Linked DNA regions of Homo sapiens. The protein of the gene in region 1 interacts with the protein of each later gene in a pairwise test. Each region holds a gene or a part of one and is shown in the gene's direction. Other genes may lie near its edges.

Evidence for each region. Proteins that work in one complex are often made in the same cells at the same time.
Region 2: the proteins of ANP32A (region 1) and MAP1B interact in a two-hybrid assay, tested with the Homo sapiens proteins (one study listed by BioGRID).

What each region holds. Positions count from the first base shown.
Region 1 is NC_000015.10:68,778,035-68,782,931, reverse strand, and holds the end of ANP32A (acidic leucine-rich nuclear phosphoprotein 32 family member A), read left to right. Parts: intron 1-2,458; coding exon 2,459-2,522; intron 2,523-2,789; coding exon 2,790-2,851; 3' UTR 2,852-4,397; downstream 4,398-4,897. UniProt on the Homo sapiens protein: Multifunctional protein that is involved in the regulation of many processes including tumor suppression, apoptosis, cell cycle progression or transcription. Promotes apoptosis by favouring the activation of caspase-9/CASP9 and allowing apoptosome formation.
Region 2 is NC_000005.10:72,201,439-72,208,474, forward strand, and holds part of MAP1B (microtubule-associated protein 1B), read left to right. Parts: intron 1-2,124; coding exon 2,125-2,363; intron 2,364-3,645; coding exon 3,646-3,801; 3' UTR 3,802-7,036. UniProt on the Homo sapiens protein: Facilitates tyrosination of alpha-tubulin in neuronal microtubules. Phosphorylated MAP1B is required for proper microtubule dynamics and plays a role in the cytoskeletal changes that accompany neuronal differentiation and neurite extension.

The sequences.
Region 1 (4,897 bases):
CCACCGTCTGCCCCTTTGAGGCAGTCCCACTGACTGCCTCTGTGATCAGTCTTGGCAGCCCCGGAGCCCTGGTTAGGAAAGTCGCTCCCCGATGGGTAGTGAAGTGAGTCCATTTCAGAGCCTTTCACTGGGCTGTTTCTGGGGAGACAAGACTTGCAGTAAGCTCTGGGGAGGCTGGATTAGAAGAGGGGAAGAGGATTTTAGAGGCAGGGACTGAACCTGCTGGGGTAAGCCTGGCCGTTGTTTCTATGTGAAGAAGTACAGAATGCATGGCCCCATTTTCTGCTTTTTGCTTTCATATGCTAATTAAGATATTCATTGAGCACTTAAACTGTGCTAGGGAAAACCAAAGTCTGCCTTGAACTGATAGGTAGCAGGATAACACTGCTGGATCCCAAATCAGAGAGTGACACTATGGAAATAGAGCACCAGGAGTTGGCCATTTTCCTAAAGAGATTGGCTGGTTCCCAGTTTTTTAACAAGATCTGTGAGGGGGTGAGTCCCAGCTCTACCACTCGCAAGCTGTGTGTCCCCAGACAATTTACCTGACCTTTCTGAGCCTATTTCTTCATCTGTAAAATAGGGATCATGATAGCTTTCTCACAGGGTTGTTAAGAGGATAAAGTGAAGTGTAAGTAAAATGCTTAAGGACAGTGTCTGACAAGGGGTAAGTGTCTGACTGCTTATTGTAGGCGTTCACACCCTCCTCCAGGTTCCTGGCACTGTGTTGGGTTTTGTGTTTGTGTGTTCTGAGTCTCTCTGTAGCAGAGTCATTTTCTATGACTTGCTCAGAATTCTAAATCAACTCTTGCTAATTGCAAAAGTTAGAACTAGAGAGTTTTAAAGTGACAATAGCATGGACAAGGCGCCTGTGTCCCCTCCCAACTCCCCCCGCAGTTTCCTGTCTCCCTCAATGGAGGATGCAGACACATCCGCTTGCCACACGGACTCACTCAGATAGTGTCTTCCAGTTCCAGCCAGCCGGCCCAGGCTTGAGAGACACAGGCCAATGACAATAGAATCGCGGAGGCCAGGCGCGGTGGCTCACGCCTGTAATCCTAGCACTTTGGGAGGCCGAGGCGGGCGGATCACTTGAGGTCAGGAGATCGAGACCAGCCTAGGCAACATGGCGAGACTCCATCTCTACTAAAAATATAAAAATTAGCCAGGCATGTTGATGGATGCCTATAATTCCAGCTACACAGGAGGCTGGGGCACGCGAATCGCTTGAACCTGGGAGGCAGAGGTTGCAGTGAGCCGAGATGGCACCGCTGCATTCCAGCCTGGGCAATAGAGCGAGACTCAGTTAAAAAAAAAAAAAAAAGCTGGCCAGATGAGCTTGGTTTCTGTTTAGTTGTGCTGCTGGCTTTGCCTTCTCCCTAGGTCTAGACTCTTAGGCTCATCTCTAAAGAATATTGTATTTTAAAAATAAAGTCTTAGTAAAACAGGTTCCCCTAGAACAGGGCAGTAAGTTGTATTGGCTAATAGCTGTTACATCTTCCTCTTCCTGTCACAGGAGTGCTGCATGTGAGGTTTGGGGGGGTGGGGATGGGGGAGGGTTGTGGATTTTGTTTTTTGTTTTTTGTTTTTTAAATAATCTCACTGACCATCTGCATATTTCCAGCTTTCAGTAAAGGAGAGCTTATACATGCAAAAAAAAACCAGAACCTTAGCAAACAGACTGATGAGGGAACTCTTTGGTGACATTTTAAAAGAATGTTTCCCTTGACAAAAAAGAAGTCTGTCACCAAGTTCTTTTAAACTTCAGGAACCAGGTTTAACAAGCAGAGATTCAACTTGCATATACTTTCAGGAGCAGAGGAAAGCAAGGGCCCTGTGTTGAGAAAGAAAGTCATACACCTTGCTGAATCTCAAGCCGGTTGGGAATGATGTCCTCAGGGGGTCTTGAATTTATCTTCCCCAACCCTTCCAGGTGGTCCAAGTTTGCAAGCTAGGGAAGGGGCTGGGTCAGGTGACGTTGAACTTGCCCACAGAATCTGGATTTGCTTAAACTGGGGTCTTCTCTTGAAGCCAAAACTAGATTGAGGACAGATGCAAGAAAGGATGGCCTACTTTGCACGTCAGGGAGTCTGCTCGGGAACTTGTTCTCCTCAGAGAATGTGCAGACTGGAGAGCTGCCTGCCTTACAGGGACTTCAGATCAGAGTTCTTAACCTGGGTCCTGGAATCCATAACCCCCTGAAACTGCTTGCAAATATTATAAATGATACGGACATTTTCTGGAGAAGGAGTTCAAAGCTTTCTGCAGATTTCCCAATGAGTCCTTGATCTGAAATAAATTAAGAACCTCTGCTTTACATTCCTCCCGAGATGTCAAGTCTTGGTGGGGGCTCTGAGAGGCTGGGGGTGACCCCGGCCTTTTTGTGCTCTGTGTGGCTTCCTCAGCATGTCCCAAGGCAGGGCATTTCTAATGTTCTGGTGTCTGTCCTTTCTCCTAGGAGGATGAAGAAGGTTATAACGATGGAGAGGTAGATGACGAGGAAGATGAAGAAGAGCTTGGTGGTATGGCAGCCTTTTTACTCTCAGCTGGTAGCAGCCTGGCCCTTTCACTTTGGCCTTAGATTGCTTAGACTCAGAGGCCCCTGGCAGTGGGCAGGACACTCCTGTCAGAGGCCTCAGATTCCCCTTCCAGCTGTGCAGATGTCTTGCCTCGGTTTCCAAGGATGGCACAGCTTGCTAGTCATGGGTCCCCTGACTTCTCACTGGGTGGGTTGAGTTAAAGAGGTGGGATTAATAACTAATCTAAATGCCGCTTTCTTACTTTTCCAGAAGAAGAAAGGGGTCAGAAGCGAAAACGAGAACCTGAAGATGAGGGAGAAGATGATGACTAAGTGGAATAACCTATTTTGAAAAATTCCTATTGTGATTTGACTGTTTTTACCCATATCCCCTCTCCCCCCCCCCTCCAATCCTGCCCCCTGAAACTTATTTTTTTCTGATTGTAACGTTGCTGTGGGAACGAGAGGGGAAGAGTGTACTGGGGGTTGCGGGGGGAGGGATGGCGGGTGGGGGTGGAATAAAATACTATTTTTACTGCCACTCTTTATTTTTTTCCCCTACTTTTTCTTTGTGTCCGGTTTTTGTCCCTGTAAATGCGATAGCTAAGTACACACTAAGTGAGCATTTGTTCCTGACTCTCAAAGAGGATGGTTTGGAGTTCTCTTACGTTTCCTGGTATTTCCCAAGTCTCTTGGGTTGGTTGGAAGGCTGTGGCTGGTCTCAGTTTGGTTACTCAATGCCCAGGAGGGGCTGAGCACCAGCCATATCTTTTGCTTTGGTTCACATGATGATACCTGCTTTTCTCAGGCCTGCTAGAGGCATCCAACGCCCTGGTTTGTAAATAGCAACCTAAAGGCGTATTTTGGCACTGGTCTGGGGACATTCCCCATCTCTCATCCCTTTTCCCCCTTCACAGATGGTGGTGGGCTTCGCTCTACAAAGAGGACTCTGATGTTACTCTTGAGCTTATGAGCCAGAGAGCTGAAAACCGCAGGCTTGTTGTGTTAAGTTACAAGGAAAATGGATTTGGTAATTAAAATTAGAAGAAACACACCTTCAAACTTCAACTTCTTTAAAAGAAAAAAAAAACTGTCCTATCTTGTTCTGTAAAATATTAGAACGCTTTGTTTTACAAAAAATGATGAGAGAATTCTTCCACATGTACTTCTGTGCTTAGAACATTTTTACGGACCTAAGCGCTGGAGACGTTGCTGCATGTCGGCTGGGTTTTTTTTTTCATACACCCGAGCACGGAAAAACTAACGCAAAATTGTATTTTCTTACCTAGTGGAAATCTGAAATGACTGCAAATTCCTAGTGAATGTACAGGTTTGCTTTCGTGTCCCTCTTCTGGTTGCTTTAGAAGTGACGTGTAATTTCTGAACCCATGTTTCATCTGTATAAAAGAACATCTGCACCAGTTTTTCTCCTGCCCCTCAGAAGAGCCAAACTTTGAGTTTTATGTCTGTTTGTCATTGATAAATTTCAATAAATCTTTTTATACAATTTTTTTGGGGATGGCTTCTTTGAGTCCAACAGGCCATTGATCTTTTCAAGATGCATTCCAGATGAACTGCTAGGTGAGGGGGAAGCTTCATTTTTGTTACCTGATAGAATAGCTTTTCTTATGAGATATATATAATGTGATACTATGTTTGGATATTTTTGGTCTTAAAGCAAGACTCAGTGGTGTATCTTCATTAAAAGCTTCCTTTAAAAAAGTTACAGAGTTACTAAAAAAACAAGTACCCAAACAATCAAGTTGGGCCAACCTTGGAACCTTGTTTTGAATATCTTTCATTGTTTTGTTTGTCGTATTGTAAAAAGAATGTATGGTTGAAAACTCAGGAATGTTTATAAAACAAATTATTTCACAAACCCAGAGGTTTACATATGGTGTTTTATTTTGTTACTTTACTTAACAGTATTATAATCATTTCCCTGTTTCTTTAATTTTCAAAAGCATGTATCTTAAATGGCTACATAGTAGTCCATCAACTATATTCTGATTTACTTAATTCTAACCAAATGGTTAGATGTTTTCATTATGTCCAGCTTACCCCTGTAGTGGATATTGTTATATTACTACTTATTTATACTTTTTGTGGAGTTCTTAGTACAAACTCTTAGAAGTAGTAGAGTCATTGGACCAAAAGCTAAAAACATTTATGAGGCTCATGTACAAGGTTCCATGTTTTCCAGAAGAGTTCAGCCAGTTTACTGTGGTTGTTTATACACGTACACATATACTCATTCTTATGTATTCATTCTATACAGCCTTGAACCCACAACAAGCCCTAGTTCCTTACAATGTCTTATAGTTGTTGTGTGATTCCAGCAGTGTAAAGTGTTTCCAGAAGAGCCCGTGACCCACCTCA
Region 2 (7,036 bases), on another chromosome or scaffold:
GATCATTCATGTTTTTGGTCATGATTCTCAGATTTATCAGGTTCTCAGCAATGACCTGGGCTTTTGATGGAACTGGTCTATGGCAGTACTGCTTCATTTTGTTGCTTCACATCAATCACAAGGATTGGCATTCATACATTTTATTTGCTTTAGGTAATTATTCAGAGATTTTTAGATCACAATTCACAAAGTAATGTAAATGGACCCAAACATGTAAGGCACAACATAATTTAAATAACATTGCCCTGATTTATTAGGGAAAATCTGATAGAGTAATCTTTGGAGCTCTCCAATTAAGTACACTTTAGGATACATTTGTTAAAACTGCAAATTTTTACTTTAAACAATATGGAGTATCAATTTTAAGGCTCAGTTCTCAGCACATTTGGCCTTTCTACATGCACATAGAAAATAATCGGAATTTTTTCATGTTTAAAATGAATGAAAAACCACCAGATAATTAACCCTTTCATCTGAAAGAGTTGACAACTGACCTGCACTTAGGAGAAAACATGAAATCCATTTAAACAGATAAAACCAACTGCAAATTTGCCAGAACATATACATCCTAGCCCACACAATTTTTAAAAAAACTTTTTTTGGACATTTAAAGAGGTAATTTAAAGGCAAAGTAATAAGTGAAAATGAGTTAATTTTCATTTATTTTGGAGATGCTTTTAGATGTCTAAAAAGGCAAAGTTGCAGTACTAATTGACTTTTAAAGCAAACCTGGGCAGTTCTGTCAGTTTGTGCTTCTGTGAGCAATATTCATTTGATGTTGATGGTAGTGATTTAGAGTAGAGGGCGAAATTGGCAGACATGTTTAATTACTGGAAGAACTGTAACTCACAAACTTCTAGTACAAGTCAGAATTCTTTAGGAATTCTTTGGATATTTTGAGGGCTTTCGGCTCAGATTCATTAAAATAAACTATTGATCTATTCATAGAATGAATTAGCTTATCCAATTATTACTTTGGCTGATTCTCACCACTCCCTAACCTCTCTAAAAATAAAACTGTACAGTTGATAGAATTAGCTGGTGGTTTTCAATCTGGGATGATAGTCTTTAAATATCCTATGGAGAAAGAGGATTAAGCATGTAAAATCTAGCTGGTGTTTTAATTGGCTTTACAGCAATGAAACCAGCTGCATATTAGAATCGCCTGGGGTGCTTTTAAAAGACAGTAGTTCCAGGCCCCAACCCAAGCCCACTTAAGTCAGACTCTAGAGAATGAGGCCTGGGTGTCAGTATTAAGCATCCGAGGTGATTCTGATTATATAGTCAGGCTGAAGAACCACTGCCTCAAAATGCTAGTTCTATTAACATTTCAAAAGCTTTAAACTTCCTAACTGGAACAAGTTAGTTTTCCCAGACCTTTGTGATTTGACTGGGGGTTTTGGTTGCAGTCTGATATGTCCTGATTAGCTAGAGAAAGCCTAGTCTTTCTGAACCTTCCTTTGCCCAAGTTTGGCATCCAGCCTTGTCTAGGGAAAGAAGTATCACTTTTCAGAATACTGTGCTAAGGAGAGAATATGGTGTTTCATCAGTTTATGAATGAGATGGAGGTGCTGAGGGCCTTGGAAATCATATGGGGTTAAGATCAAAACTATTTGCTAGGTAGAATGTTAGGGTATAATATCCAGCTGTGGACAAAATTGCTATCAATGAGACCCTAAAATAGAGCACTAAGATCACTTAGCTATGTTTTGCCAAATACAGACGTTTTCTTTTGACTTTTAAAATCTACTTCTTAGATCACTTATCAAATAAAGAAACACATTAACAACTTCTTTAGGAGGAGTATTATATCTAGTGCCATCTTGGGAAAGGCCTTCAAACTCTTCTTGCTTCCTAATATTGGTTGTCCACAAAGGGAAACTATCCCATTCTTCATTTCTCCTATTGAGGTGGTAAACAACCATGTTATGTTTTGTCACATTGCTAGCGTAAATGCCCTTGACAGATTACCAGGGAGATGGAAATGCTGTCACCACTTTGCATGTCTCAGAGGACCTACTTGTGATTGAATAGGGAAGGTGTGATTGAGTGGGGAACATGTGCTGGATGTATGGTCTCTTCACCTTGCTATGACCTTGCTTTGTCTTTGTTTATTTACCCAAGGACCAGGAACTACCAAGACGACCAAGTCATCTGCTGTGCCCCCAGGCCTCCCTGTGTATTTGGACCTGTGCTACATTCCTAACCACAGCAATAGTAAGAATGTTGATGTGGAATTTTTCAAGAGAGTGCGGTCTTCCTACTACGTGGTGAGTGGGAATGACCCTGCTGCTGAGGAGCCCAGCCGGGCTGTCCTGGACGCTTTGTTGGAAGGAAAGGCTCAGTGGGGCAGCAACATGCAGGTGAGAACTCCTCGACAGTGTCTGCACTGCCGATTGAGCTGTGTCCAGAGGCAATGGGAAGGAACCATGTTTAAAGAGGCACCTCATGTGGCTGATCGTGGATCCACATGAGGTGCCTCCTGTGTCTGTCACACACGAAATATCCTGAGAACAAAGTCAGTTTAACACACAGTAGGTAGTCTGAAATAATATTCTTGGCACCACCACCAACCACGGCCTTGGAGGAAAGACACCTTAACTAAAGCAGAAACCATTTATCTGCAAAATGGGCCTAAGATTAATTGCCCTTCCTCCAGTATGCCAAGAGTCTTGTGTGTGTGAATCAAAGCGGTCATATTTCCATATGAGAGCTCCTGAGGAATTGCCTTTCTTCCTTTGTGTTTTATGAGTAGACTGCGGCTAGGAATATGGCCATTTAGAAAAACAGCTCTCCATGTGAAATTCCACAGCAGGAGCATTGCTGAATATAGTCCCTCACAGGACACTCCCAACTCCCAAACATCATGCCTGACCACAAACCATCCCTTATTTATTTAATGACAGGGTCTCCCTATGTTGCCCAGGCTGGTCTCGAACTCCTGGCCTTAAATGATTCTTAGAACCAGCTATTATTAATTCAGCTGTGATCTTTGCTTATCAAGTTTTATTTGTGGTTCTGTACAAAATTACCTAGTAAATTGTGCTTGTATCATATTATATAGAATTACTTGTTATTTAATCATATGAAATCTAATGAGAGGCACCCAGTGGCTCCCTACTGAATGCTAGATGGAATTTATACTATTCAGGACATTACTTACCCACCCCATACCTCCATCCCCAACCACACACATAAAGTAAAGGTGCAGATCTTTGTTCTCAGGACAAAATGTTAGTTACTCACAATGAGTGGGCTTTTGAGGGCTTTGAAGTGCGCGATAAAATCCTTGGATTAAATATGCAATATCTTTTATGCAAAACTTACCAGTTGTGTTAAAGGAAATACAAAAAATTGTACCCTAACGGAAGCACTTCTCTTAACAGTAAAGAACTGAGAAACTGATTAATTGCTTTTTGGTTCCAGCCTTCAGTTTCCCTTAGAAACAATAGCTTTTCTTTGCAGCTTTATTCTGGTTCCTGGAAAATATACATTGAAAAATCCTTTGCATTTCTTGAGGAAAATAGAAAAGTTTTCTCTCATTTCCCTTCTTCTTCCAGTGGTCTAATACCTTGCTATTCAATTTTTTTCATATGGTTTCTGTTTCTGCCCTTAAATAGCTATTTTTTTTTTCTCTCCCTGCAGGTGACACTGATCCCAACTCATGACTCAGAAGTGATGAGGGAATGGTACCAGGAGACCCATGAGAAACAGCAAGATCTCAACATCATGGTTTTAGCAAGCAGCAGCACAGTGGTTATGCAAGATGAATCCTTCCCTGCATGCAAGATTGAACTGTAAAAACCAAGGCCAGCCACACCACAGGATCTGAACTTTGTTTCCAGAAATTCTTCAATTTGAAATCACCTTTTCTAAAAAGTCAATTCATCTAGTTAAGTCGCTGAACAATTACCTGCCAAATGCTATACTGTGTCATGGTGATGCAAGTCACTAAATTTCTCAGTTTTTGCTGATTGCTAAGGGAAATAACAGTATTTCCACAATAGGGTTCAAATTCCTGCAAAATTACCTACCCCAGTTCATCTCTGCTGAACATTTGGAAACCATGCACTAGCCAACCCAACTGACTTCTGCTAGGTAGAGGCATTTGTCTTAGAGAGAGAGAGAGCGCGGGAGAGAGTGAGAGAGAGTGAGAGCACAAAGATAACGCAGGAGAGAGAGAGAGAAAGAATGAGAAAGAAAAGGAATGCAAGAGAAGGAGATGTAATGACAGAGAGTTCTGGTGAGATACCCAGAGAGAAAAAGAGAGAGCAGGGTGGGGTAAGGAGGAGAAAATAAACCAACAATTAGGTCTGCATTTTCTCAGGCAGTAGGCATTCTTTAGTCTACATAGGCAAAGTTTTCCATTTTTGTCAGTCTGAGTCATCAAAAAGAGTCTTAATTTTCTAAAACAAGTTGGCTAGAAGAAAGTAAAAAGAACAACACTTGTTATGAGGGCATGTGATATTTTCACATCTTAATTAAGCTCCTTCAGTTTGAAGGCTGCACACTGACATAATGTAGTGAGTGTAGACTGGCCATGCAAGTGGTTTGGGCCCCATTCAGAACTCTCAGACTCTAAACACACAAGTAGATTGATCTAAGGCATGCTCCCAGCATTTGTCCACCCACTTAGTCCACTCTGAGTCGATTAACCTGCATGCAGCAACACCCAAGTCCACCCCAATTAACTGAAGCAAATACCAAAGCAGTTGGGAGTACATATGGTAGACAATTTGCCTTAGGAAGTGACTTGAATGTACAAAGATACTTGATGCACTTATTTTTTAATGTGAGACAGCAAGTTTATAAAACATCCATATAGGATTATAGATACTTAAAGGAACACGTGGGTGAGCGTGTGTGGGGGTACTAGAAGCTGATCTGATTGGTCCAACAGTTTGATGCTGAGTCATGCGTGTTGAATCCCACTTCAGTGCACCTGTGGCCTCTCAGTCAAACAAGTTGTGCCTTTCACAGCTTCTTTACTACTGCAAGTTCAAGACTGAAATGGCTTCTATGATCAGAACTGGGAAAACAGTGAATCTTATGGTGGAAGAGGTTCTCAGCAAGTGTACAGTATTTACCTTCCTTTGTCTTACATTGGCTTTTTAAATTTTCCATTAATTTCAACATAATTATGGGAACAAGTGTACAGAAGAATTTTTTTTTTAAGATATGTGAGAACTTTTCATAGATGAACTTTTTAACAAATGTTTTCATTTACAGGAAATTGCAAAGAAAATTCTCAAGTGATAGTCTTTTTTTTTAAGTGTTTCGTAAGACAAAAATTGAATAATGTTTTTTGAAGTTCTGGCAAGATTGAAGTCTGATATTGCAGTAATGATATTTATTAAAAACCCATAACTACCAGGAATAATGATACCTCCCACCCCTTGATTCCCATAACATAAAAGTGCTACTTGAGAGTGGGGGAGAATGGCATGGTAGGCTACTTTTCAGGGCCTTGACAAGTACATCACCCAGTGGTATCCTACATACTTCTTTCAAGATCTTCAACCATGAGGTAAAAGAGCCAAGTTCAAAGAACCCTAGCACAAATTTGCTTTGGGATTTTCTTTTCTGGAAAAAAAAAATAAAAGAAATAGTACATTGAAAACAAATGAATTCTCAACTCCTACGGTTCATGTAGAGTTTAGAGAAAATTTCCATCATTGTCATCATTGAACTGTGAACCTGGGAAGCCAGATCATGATTAACACTGACATCAAGTTTCAAGTTGCAGATCAATGCACCCAGTGTTCAGATGAGGCAAACTTCTCCGTGACAACTGTGCTGTGCTCTGTCACATTACATTTCCTGCAGACTCTAAGATCTACGGAGTAGAGAACAATGACCTCATTTTATTTTCTATGTTAGTTATTTATTTCAAAATTAACATTTTAGTTGATTTTTGTCTGATAAGTCTATGTTTTGCACTGCTAACTATGATGAGGGTTTAAAAAAATGCTTCTTCAGGGTCCTTTCACTGAGGACCTATGCAGTCTACTTAATGCTGTGAATTACATTTTTCAAATGTTTAATTTTTTAAAGAAAATTAATATTCTATTTTTGTTAGGCTTCTCTAGAAATGCAGCTTTTATTTATTACCCCATTTCTTTCAAGTCCTTGGAAAATAACATATTAAGGGTACAAGAAATTAACACATGATGGAAAAGTCATTGTGACGCCAATGAATTTCATTGAGTATAAACTCATCTACTTCAAATTTATTTTATAACACAACCTAAGATACTCAAGATAATTATTTAATGGTTAGCTCTTAAGTTGAATTGGTCTACATAATGCGTGGGAAGAAAACCAGATTTTTAGCCTTCTTGCCAAATCCAGACCTCTGGTTGATTTTTCTTTGACAGAAGATGCAAGTTATTTTCCAATTTCACAATTAAATGTATTTAACCTGAACATTATTTTGCTTTAAAAACTATAAACATTGTAGGAGAATTATAGCCAGTCTTCAGTTATAACCACTCCACCCTCCTCACTTTCTCTCTCTCTCTCTCTTTTTTTTTTTTTTTTTTTTTGCTATGGGATTTAATGGGAAAAATATGTAAAAACTGTCACTAGTCAGCTGGCTCTTTTTCCTATGAAATCTATCAGTACCTTTCTCCATCCGTTGTTCTCAATATGACCACAGAGCCTGAGTATACCAAGAAAACCAATATTCGCATTACAGGTTGCTCCTGTCCTTCCAGACACCTTTCCTGCCTGTGTGACTAACCTAATTTTGCTAGTTCCATAAATACACGATTAGTTTAGTAACAGCCATCACAATGTACCATGTACATTCATGGTGAGAGCTAAAGATCGACACAGACTTCTAGGAGCTTTGTTCATACTGATTACTTAATCCAATTGTATAGATTGAATATTTGAGTGGAAGGAATTTACACTCTGTTTAAATGATGGGATTCTATCGAGATAGCACTCATGATCATGACCTTTTTGGTAGTATTCTTAAACAAAATTCTACAGAGACTAAATGTTAGCGATGATCCTCCATTTTCAATTTTAA